Linked DNA regions of Homo sapiens. The protein of the gene in region 1 purifies or fractionates together with the protein of each later gene. This does not show direct contact. Each region holds a gene or a part of one and is shown in the gene's direction. Other genes may lie near its edges. The genes, in order: RBM18, SYT1 and UBR3.

Region 1 (3,656 bases):
ACTCACACTGACACAACCCAGTCAGATATCACTCCTTTCACAAAGCTCTCCTTAACCACCACCTTCCTTGTACCATTGGTCTTCATTCTGTGTGCTCGTATTCATCCCTCTGTGTACAAGCATCCCATTGTTTTGTAATTGTTTGATTACATCTCTCTCTGTCTTAACTAGAATGTGAGGTTCTTGAAGGCAGGAACCTAGTTTTATTCATCTGCATAGCCCATAAGCCTGCTTGGCTCTAGACACATTGTAGGTATCTATTTTAACATGTGTATAGATTAATTATTTCTGTGCCATTAGGCAGAAAAGCTGTCTTAAAGACCAATTACAGAAAACACTGATTAAGTTGCAGATATGTGTGTGGGGCTGGTGTGCTAATTTTCCAGCTCCTGAAGGCTGCAGGGCGCACATTTCATTAAGTGAAGCAAGCCTCTGCTGAGTAGTGTGCTCTCCCGCACTTCAGCAGCAGATAAAAGTGCTTGCAGATGTGAAAGCAAGATCCTTCAGGCTTTTTTCACTATCAGAGCCTGCAGTCCCCATCTCCAGGAAGCAAAATAGTAAACATTTCATTCCTTTTGTTTCAGTGTTCCGATAATTTTAAGAAATTATCAAACAAGAAAAGAAATCCTGGAGAAGTTGAAAGACACAAACCTAAGCAGATGTTCCTGGAATCTTAAGGTCACACTTCTTGGGCAGAATGTGTTTGTTAGCTTTACAAAGAGTAATCTTTTGTTGGTGTGTGTGTTTTTTTTTTTCTGAGTAAATTAAAATTCATTTCTTAGGAAATGCCAATCGTGTTACCTTCCTGCTTCTAAGCAGAATGGAGCTAATGAAAAGATGACCAGCCCACAGTAGCCTTAGATTGTCTTTTTTGTTTTTTTTGTGTGTGTGTGTTTTTGTGGGTTTTTTTTCTTTTTTTTTTTTGAGACGGAATCTTGCTCTGTCGCCCAGGCTGGAGTGCAGTGGTGCGATCTCGGTTCACTGCAACCTCTGCCTCCCGGATTCAAGTGATTCTCTTGCCTCAGCCTCCTGAGTAGCTGGGACTACGGGCATGCGCCACCATGCTTGGCTAATTTTTTTGTATTTTTAGTAGAGACAGGGTTTCACCATGTTAGTCAGGCTGGTCTCGAAGTCCTGACCTCAGGCAATCCACCCACCTCGGCCTCCCAAAGTGCTGAGATTACAGGCGTGAGCCACTGCGCCTGGCCTAGATTTTTTTTTTTTTTTTTTTAAGAATAGGTTTGACTCCCCATTCTGTGGCAACTGGCACGGTGTTAAGATTTGAATAGGCTTAGTAATTTGAAGATACAGCTGTGAATTAAAGACCCTGGGGGAGACTCTTCTCGCCCATCTTTGTGTGTGAGAGACTCACCCTTGCTGTAAGCCTGTTCAAAAAGTCAAGTAAAACCACACATTTGCACTTAAGGTGTCTTCGTTTCCCCTGAAGTCACTTCCTACATTCTCTCTAGTGGTTGAGGTGTCCTGATGGGAGTTGGGAAGTTAGAAAGTAGGGGATCATGGTGGTTTTACCTTTCAAAATAGACCAGATTAATATCCACAATATGCCTTGGGATCCTTGCATTTGTCCCAGTACTAAACCTGTATTATGTCTTTCTTGTTCCACTGTGTCAGACACTTGATCCAGGATATTGGACTTGCTTGTTGATGTGCATTAGTATCAAATTTAGTATAGTGTATGGTCCATTTCATATCTTTCTGCCTCCCAAAGGAAATTCTTGCTCAAGAATAAAATTTTGATGAGTTTCTCTTAGAAAACAATGTGAATATAAATGTGGCTATAACGACAACTTTACTGACTCCCTGTGGGGTAGAATTCCCAGTAATAACAGATTTAGCATGTGGGCTGATACCTTTTTAGTATCACAGGGACAGCATTGTTTAGAGAAAGCCTTGACTCCATTTGAATAGCACGGAGGATGCCAGGAGGAAGGCCAAAGGGAAAGGAAACGGGAGAGCTGTTGGTTTGTCTCACCCCCACATCAGATGACAGGAAGTCGGAATTGAGATTGGCCGCAGCAACCTGTTAAGGCCACATCTGTTTGAATAACTTAAAAGCTCTGTAGAAACCAAGTAAGTTTTGGAGTAAGAAATTTAATAGAGGATGAAGGGCAGAGTAGTGGTAAGCAATAGCTTGGAGTGAACATCCTGCCAGGAATAAATTTCTCCCTTGACCATCTGTATTCTTTACTTGACCGTACCCTAGAGTATAAACTGTTTTAAGGCAACTGAGGTTGGTTAGTTACCCATAGCTGGGTGATTTATAGGACTGGCCAGGTTCCCCTGCCCTTTGTGAAACCGGCCTCAGTCACATAGTTGTTCCACATTGTCCTCATGTTCAGTCACATCAGTCATTGAAACTCTCAAGTGCTGTGGAAGTATCACTAGCTGTGGTTTGATTAATGGCAGAGTTTCTCACAAGTGCAATTTGGGTCTAAGAATTAACTACAAAATCTAATAGGAAGATCTTCCAGGACTGTTTGTTTGTTTGTTTGTTTGCATGAATGCATATATGTTTGTTACTTTATTTTTGAGATAGGATAGGCTTTGTCTTTTGGAGAATGGGTGTGTGTTTCTGATGGAGTTATAGTTATTCACAAATGCCATTTCATTGCCAAGGAATTAAAAATAAATAAATCAACACTATTTTTGAGCTTTTCTCCAAAAGAAAAACAAATAGTGCTTGTAGGCCAGACAGCTGTTTGTAAGGTGTGGTTTTTTTGTTTGGTATTTTTGTGTTGGACAGATGCATAGCCATGACAATTCTAGTTCCCATACCAAATAGAGGCAAACAACTCTGTTTGCCAAATAAACTAACATAGCAGTTTAGAGGAAGGCAGGGGGCTGGGGCGAGAGATTTCATCCCTGGGGTAAATTATCTCCTGCTTTTATCTCACACTTCAGGCTGAGTGGCCAACAGAATTCCCAGAGCATACTCATGGACTCTTCTTTCTCCACAGATACCACCTCCTCAAGCTCCTCCAGAAGTTTGGCAAGGTAAAGCAGTTTGACTTCCTCTTCCACAAGTCAGGTGCTTTGGAGGGACAGCCTCGAGGCTACTGTTTTGTTAACTTTGAAACTAAGCAGGTAATTAAGCTTTCTCCCCATTTTATAATATTTATCAAGCTCTGTCATAATTATTTGTGCATGTCTCTTGCCTACTAGAATAGCAGTTCCCTGTAGGCAGGAGCCATGTCTGATTCATCTGTGTGCCTTACACTGAGTCCTATAAGGGATCCTCAATAAACAAATGAATTAGTGGCTTTCACAATTCACTGTCCCTTGGCCAAAGTTTAAGGCAACTGACTCACCTACATTTTTGACCAAATGCACTGGGATGCCCACATCGAGCACATGTACATCCCCCTCCCTATTCTCTTTTGTTTGTTGCTTTACTGGCTGGCCAACTGACAAAGCCTTCTTTTCTTTCAGTAGTTTTGTCCTGTGGTACAGAAACCTATCTGTGATGAGACACCCACAAAGACTCTTTTGTTATTTCTTCTCAAGGTCTCAGAACAAATGCATATAAATTTTAATGTATGTAGAAGAGCGCATTCACCTTCAACCATGATATATACATGGATCTCCTTGTATTAAAATTTAGTCCTTGAAGTGGAAGTGCATTGATAAAGAAATTG
Region 2 (3,656 bases), on another chromosome or scaffold:
AAAATCCATCTGTGTCTGGAGACCCTTAAATAAGCACATGCTTCATGGTCATTATCCCAGATAACTGACAATTTGTTTTTCTACAAAATCTCTGGATATTATGAAACATCACACACGAGCTTGCTTTTAGGATAGATTATTAATAATGTATTTTTCAGACACAATTGTATGTGAGAGTTTCTGCAAGTATAAACAATAAGATAACATTACAGCAGCAGGCAACACTCACTAAAATATCAATTTTGAATTGTCTGCTCTCTCTTTGAGAAGGAGAAAGAGCTAACTGAGTATCTTTTTCCCTCATGATGTACTTACTGGTCTCCAATATCCTATGCCATACAAACAGTGGACATGGTCCTTGCTTAGCTCCTATGAAATACGGAAACTGCCTACCTGCTTATTTTTGAGGGAAAAAAAACTTTTCTAGAAAGATTTTTAGACAAATGATTTATTGGCCTTTGAAGCAAGGACAAGTGCTATAACAACTCATTAAGGGACAGTTGAGCTCTAGCAATCAGGTTTTGAGTTATCAAGATTATTAGGAAGAAAAGTTGACACAGTTTCTCAGGAAAAAGACAAGGAAGCAAAGCATTGAAATCTGTTTCTGACTTGGAGTGTCTGCCAGATCCTAGTTTACAAGGCTGGCTTTCTGCCTAATCCCTAGCATTTTCATCAGATTTGAAGACTGAATAAAGTGAACTATTGGGCATTAGAGCATATTTCTAGAGCACCGAGACCTCTTCTATAAATAGCATAACATCACTCTTCTATTTTAACCAATGTTCAGAATCCGAGGCCACAAGTTTTTATATTTAAATATGTATAAACCAGATCATTCTATGCCTGAAAGTACTAGGGTTTTATCTGTCTGTGTACAGGAAATTCTTCTGTTAAAAGCTTAGTTAACAATATGACATTACAAATAATGTACCTATTTTTAGTGGTTTTATTAAATTATAATGTTAAATTTAAAAAGCCAAGCATTCACCTTGAGCTACATCTGAGCCTGATAATTCAAAAAGTGACATTTCAGTACAAAGCCAACATACCCTTAAATTGACAAAACTGCCCTGCTTTTAAATTGTTTTGTAAAAAAGTACTTGATATGCAAGTTTCCAACGACTTGTTTTTTTTCTGGAGAATCTTAGATACTTTCTGAACCACTCTTAGACAACACAGAATGAATATTAATGACAGGAGAGAGCTGACTCCTTCAGGCAAAAGTGGATGAGACAAGTTCTTTTATGCCTTTGAGAATCTGTTTCATCATTTATATATTGAACACATAGCAACAGTTTTATTTCTCTTGATTTCTGGACTTTTAGACCTGTATGCATCGAAGCATATTACACCTCACAGCCTGAATAGGAAAGATTTGTTCAGTTCTCTGGTTATAAGAATGATATAGGAATTCCTTTGTGTTCTCTTCCTTTCTGTACATTTTATTCCTTTCTCATGTCTTCTCTTCCTACTCTGCCCTTCTTCCTTCTTTTCTTCATTCTTTTGTCTTTCCTTTCTTTTTTTGTATCTTAATTAAATATTTTCCTATAGAATCACTAAATGAAGGTTTAGTACTTTTGACCCATAGTAATCTTCACCAGCTGAATTAATTTGTGTCAACAACTAAGAAATGTAATTCTTAGTTTGTATACATTTTAGGTTAGCTTCACAAAATATATGTATAGATAAATAAAGGAGCAGCCTTTTAATTTGTTTATGTAATTGGCACACTTAAATGGAATGTGTCATCATATGAATGTTTTTAAAATTTTGCATGTAAAGGGCTTGCGGATAATTTTTAAACCGTAACTTTTTGCAGAGAGACAGAATAATGTTTTAGAGTCCAAAAAACTGGCATGTACTATTTGGCATGTTTTTCTTTATTTTCTATTTTGCCATTGCAATGGTAACAAGTTACTGTGTTCATGACAGGCGTGCAGCACTGTATTTTTATTTGTTTATTTATTTTATTGCCTTGTTTGATGTTGATAATGAAGAGGTTCTCTCTCTTAAAGATGCAATGAAGGAGACTCAAGTGTTGTTACTTGCCTGCAATTACACATTTAGAAAGCCTCTTATATTTTTTGTCTGTTGGAACTTACTGCCTCAGCACTTAATAAAGCAGGAAAAAGCATGTTTTGTAATTCTCTTACTATGTAAGAACTAGTTTGCTTTTGCTTATCTAACATCATTATTGAGTATAAGATACATAGTCTTTATTTATCCCACTGAAAAAATAAGAAAGATTTGATATACCATTATTTCTTCTGTGACTCTAATTGCAAAATAAATTGAGTTTGTGTTTTAAAATTATTCAAGGGACATTTTTGTAATCTACAAGAAAAGTCACTAAGCTTGAGTCACTAGGCTAAGTTGGCCTTTAGTCATTGCTATATCACTGTGATGTTAGATAAGTCACCTTATTTGTTTTCTTATTTGTAAACTCCATAGTTCCAAGCCACCAAGTAGGGTGCAATGAGAAGTGATTGTAATCATAAGTGTTGTAGCTTTATCACTAACTCTCCAAACTTATCTCTTATTATTCTCCTCATTGATATTCATACACACCTTCTTGCTGTTCCTTCACATAACATTAGTGGAAGTTGTTGAATCTATTGATACTTTTTATCTTCTATTCCAAGGTAGAATGGTTAAACATTCTGCTCTAAGTGAACATATCCAAACCACAATTATTATTCAATTCAAATATGAAGTCTATCAGTTGGCAATTCTTTGTGTTAAGAAACACATTTGCGAGCAATAGCTAATAGCCATACCATTGCAATGTGGAATAATATAAGTGTGTTTGTAGCTAATCTGATTTAAGAAAACAGGAATTTTAGTTGGGAAGGGCCTATAGAAAGAATACAAAATTATATGAAACATAGGATAGGTATTAAGGGAGATATTTGAATGAATACAGGTATTCATATTGTTTCTTACAATATGTCAGGCACTTTTCTATGTACTTTCCATGCTTCATCCCATTTAATATTCTCAATAACTCCTTGGGATTTGTGCTAATTTGTTTATAATTTTTAAGTGAGAAAGTAGTGGAAAAAGAATAACTGAGCAACTTCCCAGGGTCACATTATGTAGTAAGATGTAGAATTAAACCCAAGCTACCTATTTACAGAGCCAATACTCAATCATAGGTAGTCACACAATCAATAAACTCATAAATGTCAGAAGAAGAGAATAGATGGTGGCAAAGAGGTAGAGGTACCCAAAAGAGATTAAATAGTGATAGGCAAATTGATCCACTTTATAGGTTAGGTCAATATGAGCATGATGGCAATAGGATAAAAGTATGAAACTTAGAGAGCTGGATTCAGATAGCCAACTCTGGAATGGTGAACTTCAATAAGATAGTTCCCCAGGAATGAAAATGCAATAATGTTTGCAAATTGTCTGGTGCCCTGTTACTATATGGTAGATTTGACCACCTTTGCTCCTCTTTCTCTTTTTTTATTTTCAGAAATTCTTTCACTTGTAAAAATGCCACCTGACTCAAAATGCTTAAGCAAGAAAAGGGATTTTGGTGCTCATGTGACCATAAAGTTCATGAATATTCTGGCTTCAGTCATAGGTGGAAATGGGAGCTCACACCATGTGGTCAGAACCAAGCCTATTCTCCTTCCTACCACTGTACCACT
Region 3 (3,656 bases), on another chromosome or scaffold:
GGATTAAATATATTTGAGAGAGAGGTCAAGGGAGAAATTTATTTAAAGAGCAAATCTATTGAATAAATCTTTGTATGAAACTGAGCATTCCCTTTAGAAAATATAGTACTAATATGTTTTTAAAATGATGCTAAATAACTTCTCTTGATTTTTCTTTGTTTCTCTTTGTTAATGGTAGAATTCTGGTACAGCTCAAGTTTTCAGTTTAGTAGCAGAACGTAGAAAGAAATTTCAGGAAATCATCAATCGCAGTAGCAGTGAAGCAAATCAGGTGGTTCGTCCCAAAACTTCAAGTAAATGGTCTGCTCCTGGTTCAGCTCCACAGTTAACTACAGCCATTTTGGAAATTAAAGAAAGCATATTGTCTTTGCTAATTAAACTTCACCACAAACTCTCAGGAAAACAAAACTCCTACTATCCTCCTTGGCTTGATGACATAGAAATTTTAATCCAACCAGAAATTCCTAAATACAGTCATGGAGATGGTATAACTGCCGTGGAAAGAATTTTACTAAAAGCTGCATCGCAAAGTAGAATGAACAAACGCATCATTGAAGAGATATGTAGAAAAGTGACCCCTCCTGTACCACCTAAAAAAGTCACTGCAGCAGAGAAGAAAACATTGGACAAAGAAGAAAGGTAATTTTTATTTTTAATGTTTTAAACGTGTGTATAGTTGAAAATTTGATATTTTCTTCCTTTTGGTCATTTGAGGATAATCACCTGGATGTTTAACAGGAACAGTCATAGCTGATTAGTTTGTAACATAAATGGAATGGAGCATAGTCAGTGCTTGTACATGTGATGTATTGAGTTTATTGATGGACAGGTGAGACTTTCTGACCCCAATGTAAAATTACTACCTTAAACCTGTGTGTCTCTTTGGAAAAATTGCTACTGCTTTTATTGCTGTAGGGATCTAATAATTCTCTTACTGTTAAAGTTGAACTGTTCAGCTTTAAATGAGAATATTAAAAATATTTAAAATATTTCTCAAAATAAAAATCCAACTGCTTTAGTTTCTTTTGGTCTTTTCTAATCTTTATTAATATATGATTGCTGATTTTTAAAAAGTGATGTTTTAAAACACATTCTGACTAACTTATGCTTCTAGCTTTTGGATCTTTAGGTTGCTTATAATTTGTTGTTAAATTATATTTATAAACTTTTTTTTCATCTTTTGACTTTCTTGAAAAAAAAATGGGATTTTTTTAAAATCTCAAGATATATACTATGTTATGTGGGGTTTGTGGGTCAAGGACTATGAGCATGGTTTGGTTCTTTTTTTTAGTGGTACATTGTTTGCCAGAAGAGTTGTGTTACTGTGCATTGTCACAAATTGTTTCCCAAGAGCCTTGTCAACATTGCTGACCCTGCTGTCATAAACATGACAAGGTGAATCTTGAGAGATTGAAACTCTGCATAATTGTCAAACTCTTGGAAAGGGTTCAGTGTTTATTAAAGAAAAAAAAAAAGAGCATGCCTTCTAATGAGTGTACACAGGCTAAAAGACCCAGGACATTTAAAAAAAAGATTTCAGATCAAATTCAAGATAGTCATTGCTCACTTCTCTGAGGTTATAAATAATATTCATTGTTTTAATTTCTTTATTATTTAAGACAAATTTGTCTACCAAAGCAACAATTATAGGGGAAGGGTACACATTTCCCGTTAGGGAGGGTCCAAAGAGATCACATCAATATTATCTTAATTTAAGAACCTAGGACCTTTATCATCTCAATCTGTTTTATATAGGTAAAAATCATTGTCAACAGAGTTATCTGGACTACTGTTGTGAGCAGTATGACTAATACATTATTTAGCAGTTTGAAGTGTACTTTAGAGGTATTTTCTGGATAATTTCATCTTCTTAGTTACTTTTAAAATTAAATATAGGCAGTTATGGGTTAAATGATCAGTGGAAGCAAGCCTAAGATGGATCTTACTTGATTGATCCGTTTCTCATTCATTGGGTGTCAGTCAAGCAGTTTTCTAGACATATCTGTGTCTGGTGTTGGACTTCCTGACCTCGAGGAATTGATACTATAATGGAGAGACAGACTGGTAAACAGATAGTTTGTTAGTAGTGTTAACATAGTGTAACAGATACTATCTTAGGTACACAGGGTGTTAATGGGAGTAGTAGGACATAAGGCTAAGAAGGTAACCATGTATCGTTAACTCGCACAGGGTATAAATGGTTACAGGGAAACTGTGGAAGGATTTTAAGTGAGGAATAATATATAGGGTAATTACATGAGGGTAGATTAGAGTGGGGTAAGACTGGAAATTGGGAGAGCAAGCTACTTAGTCATCTAGTGGGGCAGGTGTGGTAAGGGTCTGAACTAAGACAGTGATGATAATAAAGAGAGGAGGAGATGTGTATGAGATATTTAGCAGGTACAAGTTGTTAGACTCAGTCATCAGGTTGATGTGAGAAATGAGGGAGATGTCTTGAATGGTGCCCTGATTTCTGACTTGAATAATGTTCCTTTTACCAAGATAATGGAGTGTAGGAGGGGTCCCAGGCTCATTAGTAAAAGTGATCTGTTCAGTTCTGGACGCTACTAAGTTTAAGAGGGACACCCAGGTGAAGGTGTCCAGTCAGATATAGGGTTTAAAACTTAAGGGAGAATTCTTAGAGCTACAGATTTGAGCAGCTAGGTAGTAGTAAATCCTTGTATATGGGAGAAGGTTTACAGTAAGAAAATGAGAAGACTGAATGTAGAACTTAAGGGAAAAACATTAAAGGGAATGACTGAGGAAGGGGTACCTACAAAGGTGACTGACGAAGGGATGGCTGAGCAGAGTAAGAGAAAAACTGGGGTGAGTGGCATTAGAGAAGTCACAAGAGGAAGTTCAGAAAGCAAGAAACTTATCAAAATTGTTAAGTGCTACAGGAGTTCAATAAGATTGGCCATCCTATTTGATTTGTTAGTTAGGAGGTCATCCGTTGGTACCTGTATAAGGAGCAATTTTAGTCACATATATAGTTACACTACATCTCTGATGTAATTAAAAGTTTGTTGGGAGGCCGAGGTGAGTGGATCACAAGGTCAGGAGATCAAGACCATCCTGGCCAACATGGTGAAACCTCGTCTCTACTAAAAACATAAAAATTAGCTGGGCGTGGTGGCGTGTGCCTGTAGTCCCAGCTACTAGGGAGGCTGAGGCAGGAGAATTGCTTGAACCTGGGAGACAGAGGTTGCAGTGAGCTGAGATCGCGCTGCTGCACTCCAGCCTGGCGACAGAATGAGACTCCATCTCAAAAAAAAAAGTTTGTTATAAAAAATTTATATTAATATATGCAAAAGCTTATGGTAGATTAAGAATTTAGGAGAATTCCTAAATTGGAGTTATAAAGAACTAACACAAAATTTGTTTCCGTGGGAGAAAGGACATTCAGTAACATATAATTCAGATGACCATTCATTAAGTTTGAATTAGTAATAGCCTAGAATGTAATAAATCTACTGACAAAATTAGAAGGTTGAAAATGAGGTAAGATTGTTATTTTTGTTAATTAGTGGTCTCTCTTAGTGGTCAGATCCTTCTTTCTGTTATATAATAGTATATCCTTTTATTTTGAAAGAAGATAAACAGTGAATCAAAATCTGTTTTTCTTGATTAAGGGAATTTTGTAATTATTACTAATA

The links.
Region 2: the proteins of RBM18 (region 1) and SYT1 purify together in Homo sapiens (affinity purification with mass spectrometry; one large-scale study listed by BioGRID and IntAct). This does not show direct contact.
Region 3: the proteins of RBM18 (region 1) and UBR3 purify together in Homo sapiens (affinity purification with mass spectrometry; 3 studies listed by BioGRID and IntAct, with this or other methods). This does not show direct contact.

The regions. Positions count from the first base shown.
Region 1 is NC_000009.12:122,251,296-122,254,951, reverse strand, and holds part of RBM18 (probable RNA-binding protein 18), read left to right. Parts: intron 1-584; exon of another isoform or gene 585-678; intron 679-2,978; coding exon 2,979-3,105; intron 3,106-3,656.
Region 2 is NC_000012.12:78,871,130-78,874,785, forward strand, and holds part of SYT1 (synaptotagmin-1), read left to right. Parts: intron 1-3,656. UniProt on the Homo sapiens protein: Calcium sensor that participates in triggering neurotransmitter release at the synapse. May have a regulatory role in the membrane interactions during trafficking of synaptic vesicles at the active zone of the synapse.
Region 3 is NC_000002.12:169,949,427-169,953,082, forward strand, and holds part of UBR3 (E3 ubiquitin-protein ligase UBR3), read left to right. Parts: intron 1-178; coding exon 179-639; intron 640-3,656. UniProt on the Homo sapiens protein: E3 ubiquitin-protein ligase which is a component of the N-end rule pathway. Does not bind to proteins bearing specific N-terminal residues that are destabilizing according to the N-end rule, leading to their ubiquitination and subsequent degradation.